3 linked regions of the Homo sapiens genome follow. The protein of the gene in region 1 interacts with the protein of each later gene in a pairwise test. Each region holds a gene or a part of one and is shown in the gene's direction. Other genes may lie near its edges.

Region 1 (7,104 bases):
TAGCTGTTGGGAGCAGCTGGGCAAGTCTGGGAGCCAGTGCTGTTCCTGTGCAGACTGTACATGACCCTGAGCTGTGGTGTGGGCGTAAGAGGGGGAGACCGTGACATCCACCATCCCATCTTTCCCATTGATCATGAATCTGGCTAGCTGGGCAGTAGTGTCCCCTCACTTCCTCTTCACTTGGGGATTTTGCTCTCCCTAAACATTTGAATTTGAAGATGAAAGCTGTTCTTTGTTCAAGCATGTATGAGTGGACGCCCTACCCTCCTGGAGCGTCCATACACATAAGTACAATGCCAGAATACTTTCATTTTTGAAAGTAGGAAAACCAAATGGCCTTTGAAGGGGAAGTGGGCTTGGACTGCTGCCTTGGCATTTTATTTCAACCATATCCAGAAGCTGGCTGAACTCTAAATGTGGTTCACTCAAAAGCAAGATAAAGAATTTTTATCCTGCTTGGCTAATCCCTGTCAAGGCCCTGTCAAGGGATCTTAAAATTTAGTCAAAAAAGTATTTTGAAAACATTAGTCATTTGCTATATCACTAATTCGTAAAAGGCTGTTAGGCTGTGCTATAAATTCTGATTTTGTAAGTGAAAAATATAATTTGTACTTATTATTACGGGCTGAGGTAATGTTAATTTTCACCATGCTATAAATGCAATGAGGTAATTTGTATGTCTCCAGGAATCTTCTTCTTTGTTTTAAATCTTGTGTTTATTTGGTGTCAGTTGAAAGATATAAACCTTGTTCTGTGGTCTTTAGACATTGTACTTTAGTCTTAAAGGACTCACCAGTGAACTAGAAGATCTCATTGCCTCTCTCCAGGATAACAGTATGACCCTTTTGATGAAAGGCTGAAACAGTTTCTTAAAATCGTAACTTCCCAGAGCAATTCAGATTTATAAACCTGATGGACACTTAAAAGGATTTTGCTTAAAGGATAATTCAGGGTTGTGAGAGCTTGATGGCTTTGCCTACAGCCTGTTTTTCTTTCAAGCTCCATCGGCCTTTCTGGAATCAGTGTTTGATTCATGATTGAGTCAGGCCTCCAACCCTCTAAGCCACAGGTGAAACAATCTTTGATGTCTGGAAAGTTTTAATTTATTAGAGTGTTGGTGTTTCAGAGATCCTCCTTAGCTGTAGACAGAAAGCCGTAGTTAAACAGAACAGGTTGGCCCCAAAGTTGGGTACTCACTGGGCAGGGGAAAAGAGCATTTACCATGGAAAAACTATCTTGTTCTGGGTAAAAACAAAAATTAACACTCCTTGAGAGAAGGTTGAGGGCCACCTGTGGCTGACAGGTTAAATGAGAGATTTGTCATCACATGATCCAGAGCCTTGTTTTGTTTTGTTTTTATTACCTTCCTCTTTCTCTATTTAATCACATAGCTGTCTTTTTACCTCTTTACAACCAAGTATTTAGGCAAATACTAACAGAAAACGACTCAGAGTCATTTATACCCTGGAGCTGCACTGTGGAATTCAGTAGTGACTGGCCACAGTGAGCACTTGGAAAGTGGCTACTGAAACTGACAAGCTAAATTTTAAGTTTTTAAAAAATATTTAGTTGTGTTAAAAAAAAAAAAAAGCATGTAACGTAAAATTTACCATTTTAATCATTCTAAAGTTCAGCAGTGTTAAGTATATTCATATTGAAGTGCAACCAATGTCCAGAACTTTTTAAGTCCTGCAAAACTCAAACTCTATACCCATTAAACAACTCCCCATTTCCCCCTCCCCCCAGGCCCTGGCAGCCACTGTTTTAATTTCTGTTCCTATGAATTTAGCTACTTTATAGACCACATAAAAGTGAAATCATGCAGTGTTTGAATTTTTGTGCCTGGCTTATTTCACTTAGCATAATGTCCTCAAGGTTCATTCTTATTATAGCATATGTCAGAATTTCCTTCCTTTTTAGGGCTGAATTATATTCCATTATATTTGTATACCACATTTTGTTTATCAGTTCATGTGTTGGTGAACATTTGGGTTGCTTTCACCTCGTGGCTATTGTGAATAACGCTGCTATGAACATGGGAATATAGATATCTCTAGAGATTGTTCTTTCAATTTCACTTGATATATAGGGATTGCTGGATCATATAGTAATCCTATTTTCAATTTTTTGAGGAGCCTCCATGCCATTTTCCACAGCAGCTGTACCATTTTACATTCCCACTAACAGTGCACAAAGATTTCTGTATCTCCACATTCTCGCCAACAATCGTGATCTTGTTTTTTGATAACAGCCACCTTAAGGAATGTGAGGTGATGTCTTGTAGTTTTGGTTTGCATTTCTTTAATGATCAGTGATGGTGAACATATTTTCATATGCTTGTTGGCTTTTCATGTGTCATCGTTAGAAAAATGGCAATTCCAGTCTTTGCTCACTTTTTAATGGGGTTATTTTGTTTTTGTTGAATTGTAGAGTTATTTATATATTCTAGTAGTAACCCCTTATTAAATATATGACTTACAGATACTTTCTTCTATTCCATAGGTTGCCTTTTTACTCTACTGATTGTTTCCTTTGATATATAGAAGTGTTTAAGTTTGATGTTGTCCCATTTGTTTATTGTTAATTTATTGACACTTTATTGCCTACGCTTTTAGTGTTATATCCAAGAAATCAGTACCAAACACAGTGTCATGAAGCTTTTCACTTATGTTTTCTTCTAGAGGTTTTATAGTGTTAAGTCTTACATTTAAGTCTTTAATCCATTTTGAGTTAACTTTTGTATATTTTAGAAGGTAAGAGTCCAACTTCATTCTTTTGCATTTGGATATCCAGTTTTCCCTGCATCATTTGTTGAAGAGAATGTCCTTGTTTCATTGAGTGGTGTTAGCTTTTGACCATATACACAAGGGTTTGTTTCTGGGCTCTGGATTCTATTCCATTGGTCTATATATCTTTTTTTTTTTTGAGACAGTCTCACTCTGTCACCCATGCTGGAGTACAATGGCACAATCTCAGCTCACTGCAACCTCTGCCTCCCAGGCTCAAGCAATTCTCATGTCCAGCCTTCTGAGTAGCTGGGAATACAGGCATGTGCTACCACGCCCATCTAATTTTTGTATTTTTAGTAGAGAGAGGGTTTCGCCATGTAGGCCAGGCTGGTCTTGAACTCCTGACCTCAAGCGATCCACCCATCTCGGCCTCCCCAAATGCTGGGATTGCAGACATGAGTCGTAGTGCCCAGCCCCATATATCTATATCTGTCTTGATACCATTACCACACAGTACTGATCACTGTAGCTTTTCACCAATTGAGTATCTCTAATTCAAAAATACAGAATGCTCCAAAATGTGAAACTTTTTGAATACCAACATGACACTCAAAGGAGATGCTCATTGGAGCATTTCACATTTCCAGTTATATGGATTAAGGCTGCTAAAGCAGTAAGTGTTAATGCAAGTATTCCAGAATCTGAAATCTGCACACTGTAATCCCAATCATTTTGGATAAGGGATACTCAACCTGTAATATGTTGTGAAATCAGGAAATGTAAGAATTCCAACTTTGTTCTTTTTCAAGATTATTTTGGTTCTTCAGGATCCTTTGAAATTTTCTGTGAATTTTGGGTTGAATTTTTATATTTCTGCAAAAATAAAAAATTATATTGGGATTTCAATAGGGAATGCATGGAATCTGTGGATCCCTTTTGGTAGTAGTGACATCCTAACAGTATTAAATCTTCTAATCCCTGCACACAGGACTTCCTTCCATTTATTTGTGTTGCCTTTAATTTCTTTCAGCACTATCTTCTAGTTTTCAGTATGCAGATCTTTAGCCTCCTTTGTTAAGTTCATTCCTAAGTACTTTATTCCTTTGGATGCTATAGGAAATAGAGTTGTTTTTCAAATTTCCTTTTCTATTTTACTTAATTTGAATTAATTTAGATTTAAATTCAAATAGGCAAATGTGGTTAGTGGCTAAATTTAGAACATCTTCATCATATCAGAAAGTTCTATTAAACAGCACTGCGTTAAAGTATCTGTCAGTGAATCGTCTCTGTTGGAGGATATTTATACTGTATTCTAAACCTACCTTAATTATAAAATTAAAGTCCTTTTCCTGCTGATATGTTGCCCAGACCATTGACTTGCTGAGTATGTGTTCCCCCTCAGCATTGTGGAAACTATTAATAGGAAAGATGATTGTATAGATGGTGGGCTATTAACTCAGATCAGGATGAGAATTGGGAGTGCCTTTACATGTGTGGTACCCAAATGGGTGGTTGGATATAAGAGTAACAAAAGGACTGAAAGGTTTAAAAAAGAAAGAAAAAAAAAAACTCCCTGGTTGGGAGGGTGTTAAGTATCGAGTGTTTTTCCAAACCATTCCTCCTCTGCTCACCTACCCCTAGGTGATTAAAGGAGATAACTTTTAAAAAAGAAAGAATTGGCTCAAAGGTACTGTAATTCTAGGATTATATACCTTTATATAGGTTCATTCCCTGATCCCTGTATTATCAAGGCACAGATAATAATAATCCCCAACCACCCCCACGCCACATCAAAAATTGTCCCTCTTGAGTCTTTTTCCCATTTACATCACCCATTGATCTGATTTCAGCCAAATCAAAATGTTTTGAGAAAAAGAAAAAAAAAGAAGGGCTACTTGAGGTACTTAACCCCAGTCTCCCCTGGGAAAAGACCTGGGCATGCCACCCTGTACACCAGCCAGGAGTGCCCCATATGGTGGCTGCAGCTTTTGATACCCAAAGCCCACAGCAGCTCTGTGAGGCCCCACCTCCTACTTTTGGGGACCTAAAATGGGAGAAATGGTGGTTGAGCAGCTGGAAATGATGCAGAGCTGGCACACACCTTGTGAAGCTCTTCTCTGCCTCTTTCTTCATTTTTTCTGTTTAGAAATCCCAGGGAGACAATGAGCATTATTTGACACTTAAATGTTTTTGCTCCTCTGATAACCCAGACCATCAACTAGGATGCTGCTAAGGAAAATGGAGGGAAGCAATTAAAAGGGACACTGAGGGGAACAAAAGGGAAAGGAAGGAAAAGAGGAGTCGATGCTTGAGCCAGGCAGAAAAGGAGAGAAGAAAAGGTACAGTACTAGTTCATGTGACCTGGGGCTAGATAATACTCTGCCCCTTCCCATGTACGCTTGCAGTCTGCCCTCCTGACAGGTGTTCACATAGGTGCCTCCAGCACGTGCCCCTCCCACCTGAGGGCATTGTCAGGTTTCAGATACTTGGAATGGGTCTGTTTTGCTCTGTACAATTTTTGTTTGTTTGTTTTGGTCTTCATTGACTTTAGAGTAGTGGAACACTTCTCTGGGCTTCCCTTTGCCCATTTTGACTTAGGAAAGTGTCATCTCTCAAGCTGAATTCCTAGTTGGCAATCAGGGAGGGGTGATGTTTTGGCCCACCTTCAGATTTCAGTTTATTCCTGGTAAGGAAGAGCAAAAAAATAAATAGCTGAAATTCCTCACTTTAAACCTGACTTTTCTTCAAAATCACCTATTGTATCAGTTATCTATTGCTGCAAGAGGACAGTAGGTGAAGAAGGACTTGATTCCATTATACAACATCAATATAAAAGAAAAAAATGAGTTTATGTCTAATATAGCAGGCATATAATTTTTTTAAAGACTGAGATATAGTGTGTTTGGGGGGAAAATGTTGAAGAATTAAAAAGAAAAAGATGTGTTTTAATTAAAATTTTTTAAAAAATGAAAGTAACATTTGACATTTGTGGGGGATAAACCAGAATGGGACGTTTTGCTTCAGGTAATTAATTTTAGACACAAAGTATAGGTGCTTTCTAAAAGTATGTACACACATATGCTTTTTGACAAATATGACTCCAACACATCCGGAATCACCTTATTAGTGTCACATTGTGTTAATTCAGTTATACTGTTCAGTGTTAAGCTAACAAGGGCCTTTTGTTGAGATGGAATGGGTATATGTGACATAGCTAAGAAAATTTCTTAAAAGTCATTCAATGGTTTCTAGCTCCACTGTTGAGTATTGTGAGTGTGTTTGCCTCGCTTGTGGAAAAATCTAACTATTGAGTTTCTCTGAACTTAGAGCTATAAAAAAGAAAGAGAGAGAGAAAATGTACTCTTCCTCACATCTGGCACCCGAAGGGCTGTATCTCCATCTAATCCCAAAGCAAGACAACCAGCTCGCTCCCGACTTTGGTAAGTGAAATATAAGTGGCTGGCTGGGTTGTTTCATGTTAGAGAATTAGTAGCTCTCTCCTCTGAAAGTGAACTGTTCTTCTCATGCTGTTTGGCTTTGACTTAGGGAATAGCATTCTTCCCAAAAGGAAAGAAAAAAGAGAAATTGGAATGGTTCCCTAAAGCAACTCTATTTCTGTATCTACCACATAAAAAACAAATACACGGAGCTAAATATCTGCATTCTCTTCCATCGAGTCGTGTTCTAGGTTCTGGCAAGCCTGTTCTCATGTGTCCCCTTTTGTCTGCCTTGTTTGTTTGTGGCCCAGGCTTCCGTCCAAGTCTCTTCCTCATTTGCCTGGCACACCCAGACCGACATCCTCCTTGCCACCCGGCTCAGTCAAAGCTGCTCCTGCTCAGGTCCGGCCCCCATCCCCCGGCAACATCCGCCCTGTCAAGAGGGAAGTCAAAGTGGAGCCTGAGAAGAAAGATCCTGAGAAGGAACCTCAGAAAGTTGCCAATGAGCCCTCACTAAAGGGCAGAGCACCTTTAGTGAAGGTAGAAGAAGCCACAGTTGAAGAGCGGACACCTGCTGAACCAGAAGTTGGCCCTGGTAAGAGCAAACTCACCTGTGGTCTGGGTGCTCTCTCTTTTTCTCCCGCACTGTTTTGATGAAGCTTTTTTTGTTTTCCTTTTCTTCTTTTATTGGAGACTTGGAAATTTTACTCTAAGGTTAAGTTTAATACCTTTCCTTAAGTATAATATTTTAACTTCGCATTGCTTAAAAATAGTTTTTTACTTAGCAACGCTAAGTAAAAAATTACCTGGCAACACTATTCCTGTGCATACTGGAGTTTAAGGACCCCTGGCGTAGCCTGTGTGCTTGATAGAAGTCAGAATTTTTTCCAGAAGACCCACTGGTTTTCACCTCTGCCAGGGTAACCAGATGCTACTTA
Region 2 (7,734 bases), on another chromosome or scaffold:
GAGGCTGAGACCTACCGGGCTGCATTCCCAAATGATGAAGGCATTCTAAGTCACAGGATGAGATAGGAGGTCGGCACAAGATACAGGTCATAAAGACCTTGCTGATAAAACAGGTTGCAGTAAAGGAGCCGGCCAAAACCCACCAAAACCAGGATGGCGACGAGAGTGACCTCTGGTGGTCCTCATTGCTACACTCCCACCAGCTCCATCACAGTTTACAGATGCCATGGCAACGTCAGGAAGTTACCCTATGTGGACCAAAAAGGGAAGGCATGAATAATCCACCCCTTGGTTACCATATCATGAAGAAATAACCATAAAAACAGGCAACCAAGGCCGGGCACAGTGGCTCACGCTGGTAATCCCAGCACTTTGGGACGCTGAGGCGGGCAGATCACCTGAGGTCAGGAGTTCGAGATCACCCTGGCCAGTATGGTGAAACCACGTCTCTACTGAAAATACAAAAAAAATTAGCAGGGCCTGGTGGTGGGCACCTGTAATCCCAGCTACTCGGGAGGCTGAGGCAGGAGAATGGTGTGAACCCAGGAGGCGGAGGTTGCAGTTTGCCGAGATCACGCCATTGCACTCCAACCTAGGCAACAGGAGCGAAACTCCGTCTCAAAAAAGAAAGAAAGAAAGAAAGAAAAACATGTTAAATGACAACACAAGGATCTAATTGGCAAAACTGAAACCAAAGAAAATTTTACAGAAAAAATGACCTACTTTCTACAACAATAGCAATGTTTGAATGGGGGGATGGAATTAAATAAGTGGCAACTTAGATTAACAAAGAATTAACACACACACACAAAAACCTATTATAGTGGATGATTTGTATCTCTATGCAAAGCAATAAAGTAAAAATAAGAACCAGGGAAATGACAACATTAACGGGATATTTTATGATGTCCTGAATGATGATTACTTTTCATTGTAAGGGAGTATTCATGTAAGACAGTAAAGCATTTTTTAACTCTTCATCTTTTAAACATACATAGTGATATTTTTATTTTTTATTTTTTATTTATTGATACAGAGTCTCACTCTGTCACCCAGAGTGGAGTGCAGTGGCAAGATCTCAGCTCACTACAACCTCCACCTCCTGAGCTCAAGTGATCCTCCCGCCTCAGCCTCCCAAGTAGCTGAAGTAGCTGGGACTACGTGCACCACACGCCTGACTAATTTTTTTTTTTTTTTTTTTAGAGACAGGGTTTTGCCATTTTGCCCAGGGTGGTCTCGAACTCCTGAGCTCAGGCAATCCACCCACTTCGGCCTCTCAAAGCATGAACCACTGTACCTGGCCATCGTAGTGATATTTTTACAGGTGAAATAATATAATGTTCCCAATTTTCTTTAAAAAGATCCACCTAGCAGTGAAGGCATAGGTGAAACGGGATATTGAGGATACCAGAAAAGAAGCAGGTTTTTTTGTGGTTTTTTGTGGGTTTTTTTTTTTTTTTTTTTTTTGAGACAGAGTCTCGCTCTGTCACCCAGGCTGGAGTGCAGTGGCGCAATCTTGGCTCACTGCAACCTCCGCCTCCTGGCTTCCAGCGATTCTCCTGCCTCAGCCTCCCAAGTAGCTGGGATTACAGGCGTCCACCACACCCAGCTAATTTTTGTATTTTTAGTAGAGACTGGGTTTCACCATGTTGGCCAAGCTGGTCTCGAACTCCTGATCTCGTGATCCGCCCGCCTCAGGCTCCCAAAGTGCTGGGATTACAGGCGTGAGCCACCGCCCCTGGCCAAGAAGCAGGTTTTTGAAGGGAGAGGATGAGAAAACAAGGGAAGGGAAGCACTGCTGGAGATGAAGACCCAGAGAAAATAGAAGGGAATTGGACACCTACAACCACTAGAGGTCGCAAGAGGAATATCCTTTAGTGCCCTGAGCCCAGACCTGAACCAAGGTTTAACAGGGTTCTTCTCAAGTCCTTGGACTCCTTCGGTCATAATTTGGGAGCCTCCAAAAAGGAGAGCCTGAAATGAGGGCTTACGTGCAGGTAGTTTATTTGGGGAAGAGGTCAGAAATTTTCTTTTTTTTTTTTATGGAGTTCCGCTCTTGTTGCCCAGGCTGGAGTGCAATGGCACACTCGGCTCACCGCAACCTCCGCCTCCCAGGTTCAAGCGATTCTCCTGCCTCAGCCTCCCGAGTAGCTGGAATTACAGGCATGCGCCACCACGCCCGGCTAATTTTGTATTTTTAGTAGAGACGGGGTATCTCCATTTTGGTCAGGCTGGTCTTGAACTCCTGACCTCAGGTGATCCGCCCACCTCAGCCTCCCAAAGTGCTGAGATTACAGGTGTGAGCCAACGCCCCCAGCCCGAGGTCAGAAATTTTCTTATGTCACATTGTACTTTTTTTTTTTTTTTTTTTTTTTTGAGACAGAGTCTCACTCTGTTGCCCAGGCTGGAGTGCAGTGGCACGATCTCGGCTCACTGCAACCTCTCCCCGTCAGGTTCAAACAATTCTCCCGCCTCAGCCTCCCGAGTACCTGGGACTACAGGCATGCACTACCATGCCTGGCTCATTTTTGTATTTTTAGTAGAGACGGGGTTTCACCATGTTGGCCAGGCTGGTGTTGAACTCCTGACCGCAGGTGATCCGCCCGCCTCAGCTTCCCAAAGTGCTGGGATTACAGGTGTGAGCCACCATGCCCAGCCATACATTTTACTTTTGAACACTACATACCGTGGAATACTTTTCAGACTTTAAAAGGAATGAAATACTGATACATGCTTCACCGTAGGTGAACTTGGAAAACATTGTGCAAAATTAAATACGTCAGACACAAAAAGGCAAAGGCCGAGTGATTCCACTTCTAGGAGATTCCTAGAACAGTCAAATTCCTGGACACAGAAAGTAGAACAGAGCTTACCAGGGACTGAGAGAAAAAGGGAATGGGGTGTGATTATTTAACGGGTACGGAGTTTTAATTGGGAAAGATGACAAAGTTCTGGAGATGAATCGTGATGATGGTTACACAGCGATGTGGCTGTACTTAATGCCACTGAAGTGTACACTTTAAAATGGTTCACATGGAGGCCGGGCACGGTGGCTCATGTCTGTAATCCCAGCACTTTGGGAGGCCGAGGTGGGTGGATCACGAGGTCAGGAGATCGAGACCATCCTGGCTAACATGGTGAAACCCCATCTCTACTAAAAATACAAAAAAAATAGCTGGGCGTGGCAGATGCCTGTAGTCCCAGCTACTCAGGAGGCTGAGGCAGGAGAATGGCGTGAACCCGGGAGGCAGAGCTTGCAGTGAGCCAAGATCGTGCCACTGCACCTCAGCCTGGGTGACAGAGGGAGAGTCCGTCACAAAAAAAAAAAAAAAAATGGTTCACATGGAAATGTTTGTGATGTATATTTTATCACCGTAAAAAAATGTAACTGGGGTAAGTATGATCAATATTTGGCAATTTAAGCTTTATGGTAGAATTTCATTACTAGAGTGAAGAAAGACAGTCCATAAAAAATAAATTATTTAGGCCGGGGTGCAGTGGCTCATGCCTGTAATCCCAGCACTTCGGGAGGCCGAGGCAGGTGGATCACCTGAGGTTGCGAGTTCGAGGCCAGCCTGACCAACATGGAGAAACCCCGTCTCTACTAAAGACACAAAACTTAGCCAGGCATGGTGACGTGTGCCTGTAATCCCAGCTACTCGGGAGGCTGAGGTGGGAGAATTGCTTGAACCCGGGAGGCAGAGGTTGTGGTGAGCTGAGATTGCGCCATCGCACTCCAGCCTGGGCAACAAGAGCGAAACTCCGTCTCAAAATAAATAAATAAATAAATTATTTAATTGACCAGATAGGGACTCCCAGCCCTTCCTTCCTGGGGAGCTCCAGGAGCTGGCTGGGCTGGGCTTAATCTTTCCTCCCAAAGAACCAAAAGAAAAAGAGATGCACATCAAGGTTTGCTGGGGACCCTCAAAGGAAAAGAAACGATGTAACTCGAGTAGAGGATAAACGCTTTGTTCAGCTGATTTGCATCAGGGGCACCTGAAGATCAAGCGACTCCCCAGTTAAGCAGAGTCAGGGTGGGAAACTGAGTCTGTGTCCTAGAGGTCTGGGTTTAGGCAGTCATTTTGGGTTTTGTTTTGTTTTGTTTGTTTTGAAACGGAGTCTTGCTCTGTCACCCAGGCTGGAGTGCAATGGCGCTATCTCAGCTCACTGCAACCTCCTCCTCCCAGGTTCAAACGATTCTCCTGCCTCAGCCTCCCGAGCAGCTGGGATTACAGGTATGCACCACCATGCCCAGCTCGTTTTTGTATTTTTAGTAGAGACAGGGTTTCGCCATGTTGGCCTTGAACTCCTCGCCTCAGGTGATCTGCCCACCTCAGCCTCCCAAGGCCAGAGGATCACTTTAAGCCCAGTGTCAGGCCTCTGAGCCGAAGCTCAGCCATTGTAACCCCTGTGACCTACACATATACGTCCAGATGGCCTGCAGGAGCCAAGAAGTCTGGAGCAGCCGAAAAACCACAAAAGAAGTGAAACAGCCAGTTCCTGCCTTAACTGATTAACCCACCTTATGACATTCCACCATTATGACTTGTTCCTGCCCTGCCCCAACTGATCAGTCGACCCTGTGACATTCTTCTCCTGGACAATGAGTCCCATGATCTCTCCACAATGCACCTTGTGAGCCCCTCCCCTGCTGACAACAAATAACCACCTTTAACTGTAACTTTCCACTGCCTACCCCAGCCCTATAAAGCTGCCCCTCTCCTATCTCCCTTCGCTGACTCTCTTTTCCAACTCAGCCCACTTGCACCCAAGTGAATAAACAGCCTTTGTTGCTTACACAAAGCCTGTTTAGGTGGTCTTCTATACGGACACGCGTGACACCCAGGAGTTCGAGACGAGTCTGGGCAGCATAGTGAGTTTTCATCTCTAAAAAAAAAAAAAATTAAAATTAGCCAGGCATGCCTTGTACGTGCCTGTGGTCCCAGCTACTTGGGAGACTGAAGTGGTAGGATCGCTTGAGGCTGCAGTGAGCCAAGATTGCGCCACTGCACTCCAGCCTGAAGGACAGAGCAAGAACTTGTCTCAGAAAAAAAAAAAGAAAAAAAGAATAAGAAAAGGAAAAAAATAAAAAAGGAAGGAAGGGAGGGAGGGAGGGGCAGAGAGGGAGAGAGGAAGGGGGGAAGGAAGGAAAGAAAGAAAGAAAGAGAAAGGGAGGGAGAGAGAGAAAGGAAAGAAGGGAGGGAGGGAAGAAAGAGAAAGAAAAAAGAAAGAAGAAAGAAAGAAAGAGAAGAAAGAAGGGAGGGAGGAAGGGAGGGAGGGAGAAAAGGAGGAAGGGAGAGAGAGAAAGAAAAAGAAGAAAGAAAGAGAAAAAAGGAAGGAAGGAGGGAGGGAGAGGAAAAGAAAGAAAGAGAAGAAAGAAAGAGAAAAAAGGGAAAGAAAGAAAAGAGAAAAAAGAGAAAGAAAGAAAGAAAGAAAGAAAAGAAAAGAAGGGCCGGGCGCGGTGGCTCACGCCTGTAATCTCAGCACTTTGGGAGGCCGAGGCGGGCGGATCACGAGGTCAGGAGATCGCTGAAACCCTGTCTTTACTAAAAATACAAAAACTTAGCCAGGGTGGTGGCGGGCGCCTGTAGTCCCAGCTACTCGGAGGCTGAGGCGAGAGAATGGCATGAACCCGGGAGGCGGAGGTTGCAGTGAACCGAGATCGCGCCACTGCACTCCAGCCTGGGCGACAGAGCGAGACTCCGTCTCAAAAAAAAAAAAGAAAGAAAGAAAAGAAAGGAAGGAAGGAAGAAAAAAATCATTTCAAGGGTAGGCGACGGGAGCCTTGCGGTTTAGCCGCTAGTCAACGGATGGGGGGGAGTGGTAGCAAAAACATAAAAATGGGGACAAGAGAGAAACTGGAGACTCCCCAACCTGTCTGTTTCCGCCCTTTTACAGTACTGAGGGGAAAAAAAAGCCTTCTTTCCTTGGGAAATGCAGGAAGCCAGCAAGCGGCCGGAGTCTCCGGAGCCCGCAAGGAGGCGCGTTGGCTGCGCAGAGAGCGCGCTTCCCAGCTGGAGAGCCTAGGAACGGTGGCGCGGGCGGAGGCGACAGCGAGGACCCAAGGCTGGGGTTTCCTGCTTGGATCAGGAGTGCCTGGGGAGTAAGTTCTACAGGAAATGTCAATCTACTGGTCGTGGGGGTCAGACTCTGGGGTCGGGTCGATCGGGTCCCGGGGGCGGGGGGTGGGACGGGGGTGGGCAGGCAGGAGTGCGGGCGCTGGGATCCCCTGCCTGCTCGGCTCCCCTCTCCTCCCCCTGGTCCCTTACACCGTCCATTTTGAGGAAGGGGTCAAGAAGCGAGTACAAAATGTCTGGGCAGGACGAATCTCTGTAGTCGGTCCTTCCTGGCGGCCTCGTTAGGTTGATTTATTTCAACAGTTTGATCCCCATCCTGGTGCAGCTCCGAGACGCTCCTGGGCTGCGCGCGCTTTTGGGCTGCGCCACCGACAGAGACATCTGGAAGCCGGAGCTAGTGGAAGAGTAAGTGTGCCTGAGTGTCCGTACTAAGGGCGGGACCGGGCCGGGGCCCAGGGACTTGAGAGTTGCTGTCTGCAAAAGCCTCATTGTCTCTACCCTTCCGGGAGGAAAGGGGAAGGCACGAATGACCCACGTGTTCAGACCCCGAGCGCGCCCTTCACCTTGGCCCAGGGAGAAGGGCGCTTCCCCCATACCGTGCTGCAGCGTTGCGAAAGCGCCTGTCCCCGGGCTTGGGCAGCAGAGATGCCCGCATGCAGCGGTTGCAGGGGTTGTGTTCTTTGCATCCATGAAAGTATTGGAGCTGGCCGGGCGCGGTGGCTCACGCCTGTAATCCCAGCATTTTCGAAGGCCGAGGTGGGCGGATCACCTGAGGTCAGGAGTTCGAGACCAGCCTGGCCAACATGGTGAAACCCCCATCTCCACTAAAAATACCAAAATTAGCTGGCCGTGGTGGCATGCGCCTGTAATCCCAGCTACTCAGGAGGCTGAGGCAGTAGAATCGCTTGAACCCGGGAGGTGGAGGTTGCAGTGAGCCGAAATCGAGCCATTGCACTCCAGCCTGGGCGACAGAGGGAGACTCTGTCTCAAAAAAAAAAATAAATAATAATAATAATAATAATTAGCCGGGCATGGTGGCGGGCGCCTGTGATCCTAGCTACACGGGAGGCTGAGGCAGGAGAATCGCTTGAACCTGGGAGGTGGAGATTGCAGTGAGCCGAGCGCCTGTAATCCTAGCTACTTGGGAGGCTGAGGCAGGAGAATCGCTTCTACCTGGGAGGTGAAGGTTGCAGTGAGCCGAGATCGTGCCACTGCACTCTAGCCTGGGCGACAGAGCAAGACTCTCTCTCAAAAAAAAAAAAAAAAAAAAAAAAAGTATTGGATTGGAGCCTGTTGTGATGAGGGTGAACTGAAAAGTCCTGGGCAGGGCCAGACGTGCAGGATGCACTGGTTTCTTACGAGAAAGAGCTTTTTTTTTTTTTTTTTTTTTGAGAGGGAGTCTCGCTCTGTCACCCAGGCTGGAGCGCTGTGGCGCGATCTCTGCTCACTGCAAGCTCCGCCTCCCGGGTTCACGCCATTCTCCTGCCTCAGCCTCTCAAGTAGCTGGGACTACAGGCGCCCGCCACCGCGCCCGGCTAATTTTTTGTATTTTTAGTAGAGACGGGGTTTCACCGCGTTAGCCAGGATGGTCTCGAGCTCCTGACCTCGTGATCTGCCCGCCTCGGCCTCCCAAAGGGCTGGGATTACAGGCGTGAGC
Region 3 (7,767 bases), on another chromosome or scaffold:
TCTGTCCCCTAGGCTGGAGTGCAGTGGCATGCTCTCAGCTCACTGCAACCTCCACCTCCCAGGTTCCAGCAATTCTCCTGCCTCAGCCTCCCAAGAAGCTGAGATCACAGGTGCACGCCACCATGCCTGGCTAATTTTTGTATTTTTAGCAGAGACCAGGTTTTACCATGTTGGCCAGGTTGGTCTTGAACCCCTGGCCTCAAGTGATCCTTCCTCGGCCACTGAAAGTGCTGGGATTACAGGTGTGAGCCACCACGCCTGGTCAATATTTAAAGCCATAGACTGAATAAGGTCACCTAGTGAATGAGAAACTGACTTCCTGGAAACTGCATGAACAAGGTGCTTATAGAACCACTGTAAGGGTTTCTCTGAGGCATATCCAGGAGGGTGACTGCTGAGTCATAAAGCATACTGCTAATTTTTTTCACTAAGCACTGCCAGGTTGATCTGCAGAATATATTTACCAGTTTAAATTTCCATCAGCAGTGCATCTTTCCCCAGATCTTTGCCAATATTTGGGATTATCTTTCTGATTTCTGCCATGCTGGTGGGTGAAGCAGTGGTGTGTTGAAAACAGTTCATGAGAGCTGATAAAGCACATTTCTTCCCAACTTCTTGTTCAGTGACCTCAAGCTACACTGGTAGCTGGAAACTGGCAGTGCTCAGAGTATTTGCACCATGGAAATTGGCAAACACTGTACGTTAGGACTTTTCCTTCCCTGGGGAGCGGGTTTTAAAACATAGACCAGCATATTGGTGGCTATGGGGTCACACTCTTTATATTCCCACTCTGATTACAAGTGGGGTTGAGCATCTCTTTAATGCTTGCTTGCCATTCTGGCTTTTCCTTCTGTGAATTGTCTATTCTTATACTTTTCTCATTTTTATATTGGCCTTTAAAATATTTTATATTGACTTCCTTTTGATTTGTGAAAAGTTCCTCATGCATTTCAGATATTAATCCCTAGTTGCTTTTGAACATAGCACATGTTTTCTTCCAATTTGTCAGCCATCTGTTAATTTTTTCTATGGTATTCTTAACTGAACAGAACCCTTAATTGTGATGCAGTCAAGTCATACAATTTTTTTTTGCTTCAAGGATTGTGCTTTTGCAAACCTGTTTTATGAAGTAAATTCCTAACCCACATTATAGAGATAGTCTCCTGCATTTTCTTTTGTATCATATGTAGGTCTGCCATTTATCTGGAGTTCACCTTTGTATATGGCAGAACATGGGGCTCTCAACTTTATTTTTCCTTGATAAATTAAAGCCAGTTTCCCGAATGCCGTCTTCTAAATAATTTATATTTTTCTCATTGATCTGTGGTACCACCTTTGTGTAAATGGAGGTAGCATTTATACGTGGGTCTGCTCCTGAGTTCTTCATTCTGTTTCCTATTTGCTCTATGTGTTCCTATACCAGTACCATAATATTTTTATTACTATGTGGCAATGACATAATATCTGGCATGGCAGGTCTGCTCTGGTTTTTATAATTGACTTAACTGTTTAAAATTTATTTCTCCTTATATATTTTGTAAGTTTGTTGAGTTCCCTAAAAATTTAGTTTCTGCTGGAATTTTGGTTGCCATAACATTTACTTTGGAGACTAAATGGATACTTTTACAATGTAAAGTCATCCTATCCATGCTGTATCTCTCCACTTATTCAATATTTTATGTCCTTAAATAGAGTTTTAAAATTTTCTCCTTAAAGTTTTTGCAAGTTGTTGGGTTAATTCCTGGATATTATGCTTTAGAGTTTGTTAAACTTTATTGTTATTGTGAATGGTTTCTTATTGTCTGTTACATTTCCCAGTTGCTTACTGCTGATGTAGACAAAACTATTGATTTTTAGAAACTGATCTTGTACTTGGCAACCTTGCTGAGCTAACATTACTTCTAATACTTTGTTGATTCTGTTGGGCTTTTTATGCTGATGATCACACCTGTAAACATCACAGACAGGAAGATATTAGGGGCTCTGCCCAGTGCTCTGATCTTTTGCATTTAAGCACTTCTGCTAGTTGAACTCCAATCTGGTGCCCCAATTCTGACAGTTGGGTGTCTCTCATGGTCCTAAGGGCCTAGGCCCCCTATACACTCACAAATTAGAAACTGATGATATTCCATCCCATATCCAGTCCATGTAAAAGCAGTGACCTTGTCTTCTTTTGCTATTTCCTCTAACCCTTTTATCATGGTCGGGGTCCTGAGAGCTGCTGACAGATCTTCCTGCTGCCGAGTGTCTGAATTCCTGAATGCTGCTCTATGCAGCCATTCTGGGTCTTTAATGCCCCCAAAGACAGCCTGTGTAGGTTAGCAAAGTAGTGAATCAACATAGGCCTTCAGATCAGACAGACTTAGGTTTGAATCTTATTTCTGCCCCTGGCTACATGGAGCAAGTCACGCAGCCTCCCAGAGTCTGCTTCTTCATTTGTAAAGTGAAGACAAGATTTCCATAGGTCAAGTGCCTTACAGTGGTCAGTGAGTAATGCCCTTTCTCCACACTGTGATGTTGACCAGTAAGTTGATCACCTCCTGACGCTGTGGATTATTGCTATACTTTTCAGGAACTTTGTGTCTCCAGATAGAATTGAATCTCAGCAGCTACAGTTGGTCCACATCCCCATGTGCCTTCCCACCCCAATGAATAGTTCAAGTTCCAAGTTCTGGCCACATATCATTGTCCAGTCTCACTCTGGTTAACTGGGCAATACCTGGTTCTAAAGCTTGTATGTCACGAGGTATTCTAGGAAGCATGACTCCAACGAGCACTTGCATTCTTGATGATGGTATAAAGAAGTAACGTCAGATTTTTGAACAAAGGCAACTAAGTGAGTGGGAGACTCTGGTGGCTTGGTATCCTGGGAATTTGCCTATGTATCATACAGTGTTTGGGTGTAGCAGATAAAGCCAGTGGCCTGGCTGGTTCTAACAGAGATCTTTATTATAACTAAGAACAACTGAGCTAGCCATGCCTTGTCACCTACTAATAGTGGTATTTCAGATGGATAATTTAAATCAGCAATAAAAGTGAACTGTATACGTTTGGAAACTTCACCAATAGCTACTCTGTTACACACAGATCTTTATGACTTTCTGTGGTTCAATGACAATTGGCCTCATTTATAGGTGCTTGAAGCCAACCAAGGGCAGATTGCCTTCCTTCTTTTAACCAGCTAAAGAGATGGGTGGGTCAGACAAGAAGAGGGTATGATGAAAGCAGGGAAAGGGAGGTGGACTCTTCAGAGGGAGGAGGAAGTATCCGTGTCACATTATCTCTGAGAGCACTCGCAGATGCTGAGCCTGCAGAGACAGAGAAACTGGCAGCTGACCAGGGTCAGGGATGGTCATGTATTCAAATATTGTGGGTTTTAGTCAAGTGTGCTCCACCCGATTCAACAATGTGATGTGACTGCTCCTAGCAACTATTTTGATATGGTGAATGTTGTTAAGCATAGGACCTAAGAAGAGGTGGCAGTCTCTTTCCTCTCCGCACTTGGCAGGCCACCCACTCATTCCTGATAATCACATTTAAGAGAGCTCTGGACAAGCTGGAATGCATCCAAGAGAATCCCTCAACATGCTGGTGAGTGGGATTGTGACCAGGTCATATCAGGAGTAGCCTAAGGGACAGGTAATGTGTGTCTTGGATGAATTGGAGTCAGACTTAAGAGTCCCCAGGGCAGAAACAAAATCCAGTGAGGGAGAGATGCAGGGAGCTGGATTTTAGCTCCTAAGGTAGAAAATTTCCAAAAGGCTGATCAAAGATTAAATGGCTGCCTTAAAAGGTAATGAGTTCCTTGTTAGTGGAGGTGTTCAACCACTGCTTGGTGGGAAGACACTGTAAGGAGGATTCAGGCAAGTGGGAAGGGGGCTTTTTCCAGTCCCTGAAATCAATGATTCTAACAGGAAAAGATGCTCCGGGGTGCGGTGAGCGCTTACCTCTGCTCTTGCAGAGACACTGACAGACGTTCATTCAACATCTGTTCCTGCCAGGCACTGTGCGCGCTGAACACAGAAGTACAGCCTCTATGAAGCAGCCGCTGTAGGCCTCAGAGACAGCTGATAGATGTAACACTGTTGTCTCCATGTTTCAAACTTCGGTCATGGTCTTACTAGGTCTCCTCATTAAGGGGACTCACTATGTGTCCAGTAACGCTTTCTTGTTACCAGATGACAGAGAGTCAGGCTGTCAGAGTTCACGACTTTAGGTGCACAGTTTCACCCTGTCTGGTCCTTGGGAGACGGAGAAGGGGTCAGGAGAAAACGTGGGTGAAGAGGCAGCAAAGCCGCAGGAGATATGAACTAATTGCTCAACGTGGGTGTAGCACGGATTAGGCCTTTTACAGCAAGCGCTGCCAGCAGGGAACTGGTGGATGTACTCTTGACCACGCTCGGCTGGACTCTGGGGAGCCCAAGACGGGTAAGACTAGGTCCCCGGCCCCAGCAGCTGGTGGGGGCGCCGCAGGTTAGAGACGTGAGGCCGCGAGGCTGAGGGCTGTGAAGGCGGTGGGCACGCACGGCGTGCCGGGGCCGCCTGGCTTCGCGGCGGGGGAGGTAACACTGCGACACCCCGCAGACGCTGTCAGCCGGGGTCGCGGCCCCGCGTGCGCCCGATCATCTGACTGCTGGGGAGTGCGGGGGCGCGGGAGCCAGGCGAGCCAGCGCAGGCGCGCGCTGCCTCCTCCGTCCCCACCGAGTCCCCAGCGCGTGCGCGGGGCCGTGGCCGAGGCCTGCGCGCCGCCCGGCCGCCTGCACTGCGCGCGCGCCCACCCCGCGTGGGAGGCAGCGGGAGGGGCCCGGAGAGGTGTGGAGCGGCGCGGCGGGAGGCTCCGTGGGCGGCCACGGGAGACAGCGCCGGCGGGAGCGCGCCTCTCGGCCTTTCCTCCGCGCCCCCGCGTCCCCAGCCGGCCGCTCCGAGAGGACCCGGAGGAGGCAGGTGGGCCGGGGGCGCGCGGGGCCCCCCCGGGCCGCGGGCTGGCCGGCGGCGGGGTTGGGGCCGGGGTGGGCGGCCCTGGGGGCCCGCGGGGAGGTCAGTGGCCCCGGGAGGGTCGCGCAGAGGCGCTGGGGGCTGTGGAAGCCCCGCGGCCGCCTCCCGTGGGCACCGGTGTCGCTGGCCGCGGGGAGGCCTTCTCGGGGCGGAGCGGCCCACCCGGCGGGGATGGGGACTCCTCGTGGCGGCCGCTGACGGACGGCCCAACTTTAGGTTGAGGGGCGCGGGGTGTGCGGGACCCGGCGGCGGAGCTGGGCTCTGGGCCACGACCGCCAGCCGCGGCTGCCCCGAGAGTCCCCGCACGCGCAGTGGCTTTCCAACGCGGCCTCTTCCCATTTCTCACTTGACTCCCCTTGCGCATTAAATTGTCGAGAAACCTTTGGCCAGTGGGTCTTCAAAGCTAAACCAAATGGCTGTCCTTGCAGTCCTTGGCTACCTGAGATCCCTTAATTCTGAACCATCCGCACCTGGGAGGGGAAGTTGAAAGGAGCGCTGGAGCTGAGCCCGCATCCTTAAGGATCCCATTCACTGCTTATGATGGTAGAGCTTTGAATTAGATGTCAGGCTGTTCACGTCATCCAGACTCTGGTTTTCAGCTCTGTGCTGAGACAGTGTTTTGATACGTATCAGAGGATGATGTTCCTATGGGACAATAACTTGCTGTATGTTCTGAGATACTAGACTGCGTTCATATTGTAGCACCATCATCGTATAAAACGGGCGCCTTTGAAAGGTTTCAGTAAACACCTTCCTCAGGAACATCCGCCAGCACTTAAATTGTACTTCACTTTCACTTTGACGTTTGTTGTTTGTGAATCTTGTGCACAATTTAAAGTGAGTCGTCTAAACAGCACAGGATCACGTGGTGCGGGGCATTGAGCAACTGGGGAGGAAAGCAGAGACTTGAACCTGCTGGAGTCTAGTTGGTCTGCGTTTTTATGTTGGAGAACCATCCTGGTTCCAGCTTATTTTGCTTTCGTAAATATGATGCATTTTTTAAATGCTTTCATTTGATACGGTCTATCTGGACTGTAAGATTGAGTCTAGCCATGCATGGAATGTGTTTACTTCTGTTTTGTAGAAGATTTAGCCCATGGTATTCTATTTGTAGGATTCATTTCAGACATTTTGTGTTTACCACATACAGTCCCACCAGCAAGGGCTTTTAAAAAAGTGACCTATGTTGTCTCTCATAGCTTATGACAACTCCAATTTTGACACGTGTTTGAAACTAGTGATCTTTAGATTATATAAAATCAACTTCACTCTTTCTCCCTGTTCAAACCTCAAACTCTGGTTACTTTTAGGCTTACTGCTCCCTTGTTAATTATTTATAATGAACTATGGAGCTATAGGCTTGCTTTAGTGTGTTAACCTTTATTTGTGTCTTGTTTCAGGCATTTGTATATTGTTTTCTCATCTGGAGAGTGAGCTGCACTGTTTTCCTTCAGTGCTGTTTAGAAGAGCTTTCGGAGACCAGAAACATGTTCTTTTTGCATTACCCAATATGGTAGCACTAGCCACATATAGCTTTTGACCACTTGAATGGGGCTAGAGCAGTGGAAGCACTGAAATTTTAATATTTTTTTTCTTTTCCTTTTCTCTCTCTCTTTTTTTTGTTTTTGTTTTTTTTTTTTGAGACGGAGTCTCGCTCTGCTCTGTCACCCAGGCTGCAGTGCAGTGGCCTGATCTCTCCTCACTGCAATCTCTGCCTCCCAGGTTCAAGCGATTGTTCTGCCTGAGCCTCTCGAGCAGCTGGGATTACAGGCGCCTGCTACCACACCCTGTTAATTTTTGCTGTGGGGTTTCACCATATTGGCCAGGGTGGTCTCGAACTCCTGACCTGAAGTGATCTGCCCATCTCGGCCTCCCGAAGTGTTGGGATTACAGGCATGAGCCACTGCACCTGGCCAATTTTTAAATTAATTTAAATAGTCACATGTGGCTAGTAGTTAGCTGGTCAGATGCCACAGCTTTAACTTATTAGTCTCCAGGAAGCCTTCGTTGACCCTCTTGAATCTGTGCTTTCATAGGACTCAGCTGTCCTTGGTCATAGCACTTACTACTTTCAACTTTCTGGTAGGAATCAACACTAGGCTGTAATTTATATGAGGGCAAGGACAGATCTGGTTTCTTTACCTTTGCATAGCTTAGAACTTAGTAAGAAAAACTGAATAAATATTTGTTAAATGCATAAATAGCTTTTTCAGGGCAGGTATTTCAATTTTTAATTCTCTCTAAGGCCAACTAAGTGTTCAGTACTGTAAATACCTGTTTAGTAGATTGTACAGATGTTATGTAGGTAGCAAATAAAAGGATCATTGGAGTTATGCTTTAAATACTTACGTGGTGAGATTGGAATCTCAGGAGAATGATGACTCATAACAAAGTATTACAGGAAATTGAATGAAAGGGCCTCATGATTCCAGCTAATGTAGACACAGCTTTGGTCTCCTATTAGTTGAATAACTCAAGGACACTCTTGAACCATATCTCAAATCTGAAGTCTCCTGGCTTCAGTAAGGCCCTTTTATGGGGTCCAGACAGTCCTGAACCAGCCTGAAGATGCTAGTGGACATCCCCATTTATTACTGCTCTGTGTTAAAGCATGGACCAAGGAGTCTTGGAAAAAAAATCACAAGGTATTTGAGCCACGTTATGTAAGATGCTTTTGCTAACAGCTAACTTGGAGTGATGAGTAGGGTGAAATTCCTATAGAAATCAGAGTTTGGGGAATTTGATTCTAGCTATTGTTAGTATCAGAGGCAC

Evidence for each region.
Region 2: the proteins of MAP7 (region 1) and ZNF114 interact in binary tests that used the Homo sapiens proteins (3 or more experiments, as listed by UniProt).
Region 3: the proteins of MAP7 (region 1) and CLIP4 interact in binary tests that used the Homo sapiens proteins (3 or more experiments, as listed by UniProt).

The regions. Positions count from the first base shown.
Region 1 is NC_000006.12:136,365,392-136,372,495, reverse strand, and holds part of MAP7 (ensconsin), read left to right. Parts: intron 1-6,056; coding exon 6,057-6,169; intron 6,170-6,477; coding exon 6,478-6,761; intron 6,762-7,104. UniProt on the Homo sapiens protein: Microtubule-stabilizing protein that may play an important role during reorganization of microtubules during polarization and differentiation of epithelial cells. Associates with microtubules in a dynamic manner.
Region 2 is NC_000019.10:48,265,347-48,273,080, forward strand, and holds the start of ZNF114 (zinc finger protein 114), read left to right. Parts: upstream 1-4,734; 5' UTR 4,735-4,873; exon of another isoform or gene 4,874-4,887; intron 4,888-5,556; exon of another isoform or gene 5,557-5,769; intron 5,770-5,874; exon of another isoform or gene 5,875-5,898; 5' UTR 5,899-6,103; intron 6,104-6,269; exon of another isoform or gene 6,270-6,380; 5' UTR 6,381-6,482; exon of another isoform or gene 6,483-6,486; intron 6,487-7,734. UniProt on the Homo sapiens protein: May be involved in transcriptional regulation.
Region 3 is NC_000002.12:29,110,722-29,118,488, forward strand, and holds the start of CLIP4 (CAP-Gly domain-containing linker protein 4), read left to right. Parts: upstream 1-4,693; 5' UTR 4,694-4,944; intron 4,945-7,434; exon of another isoform or gene 7,435-7,640; intron 7,641-7,767.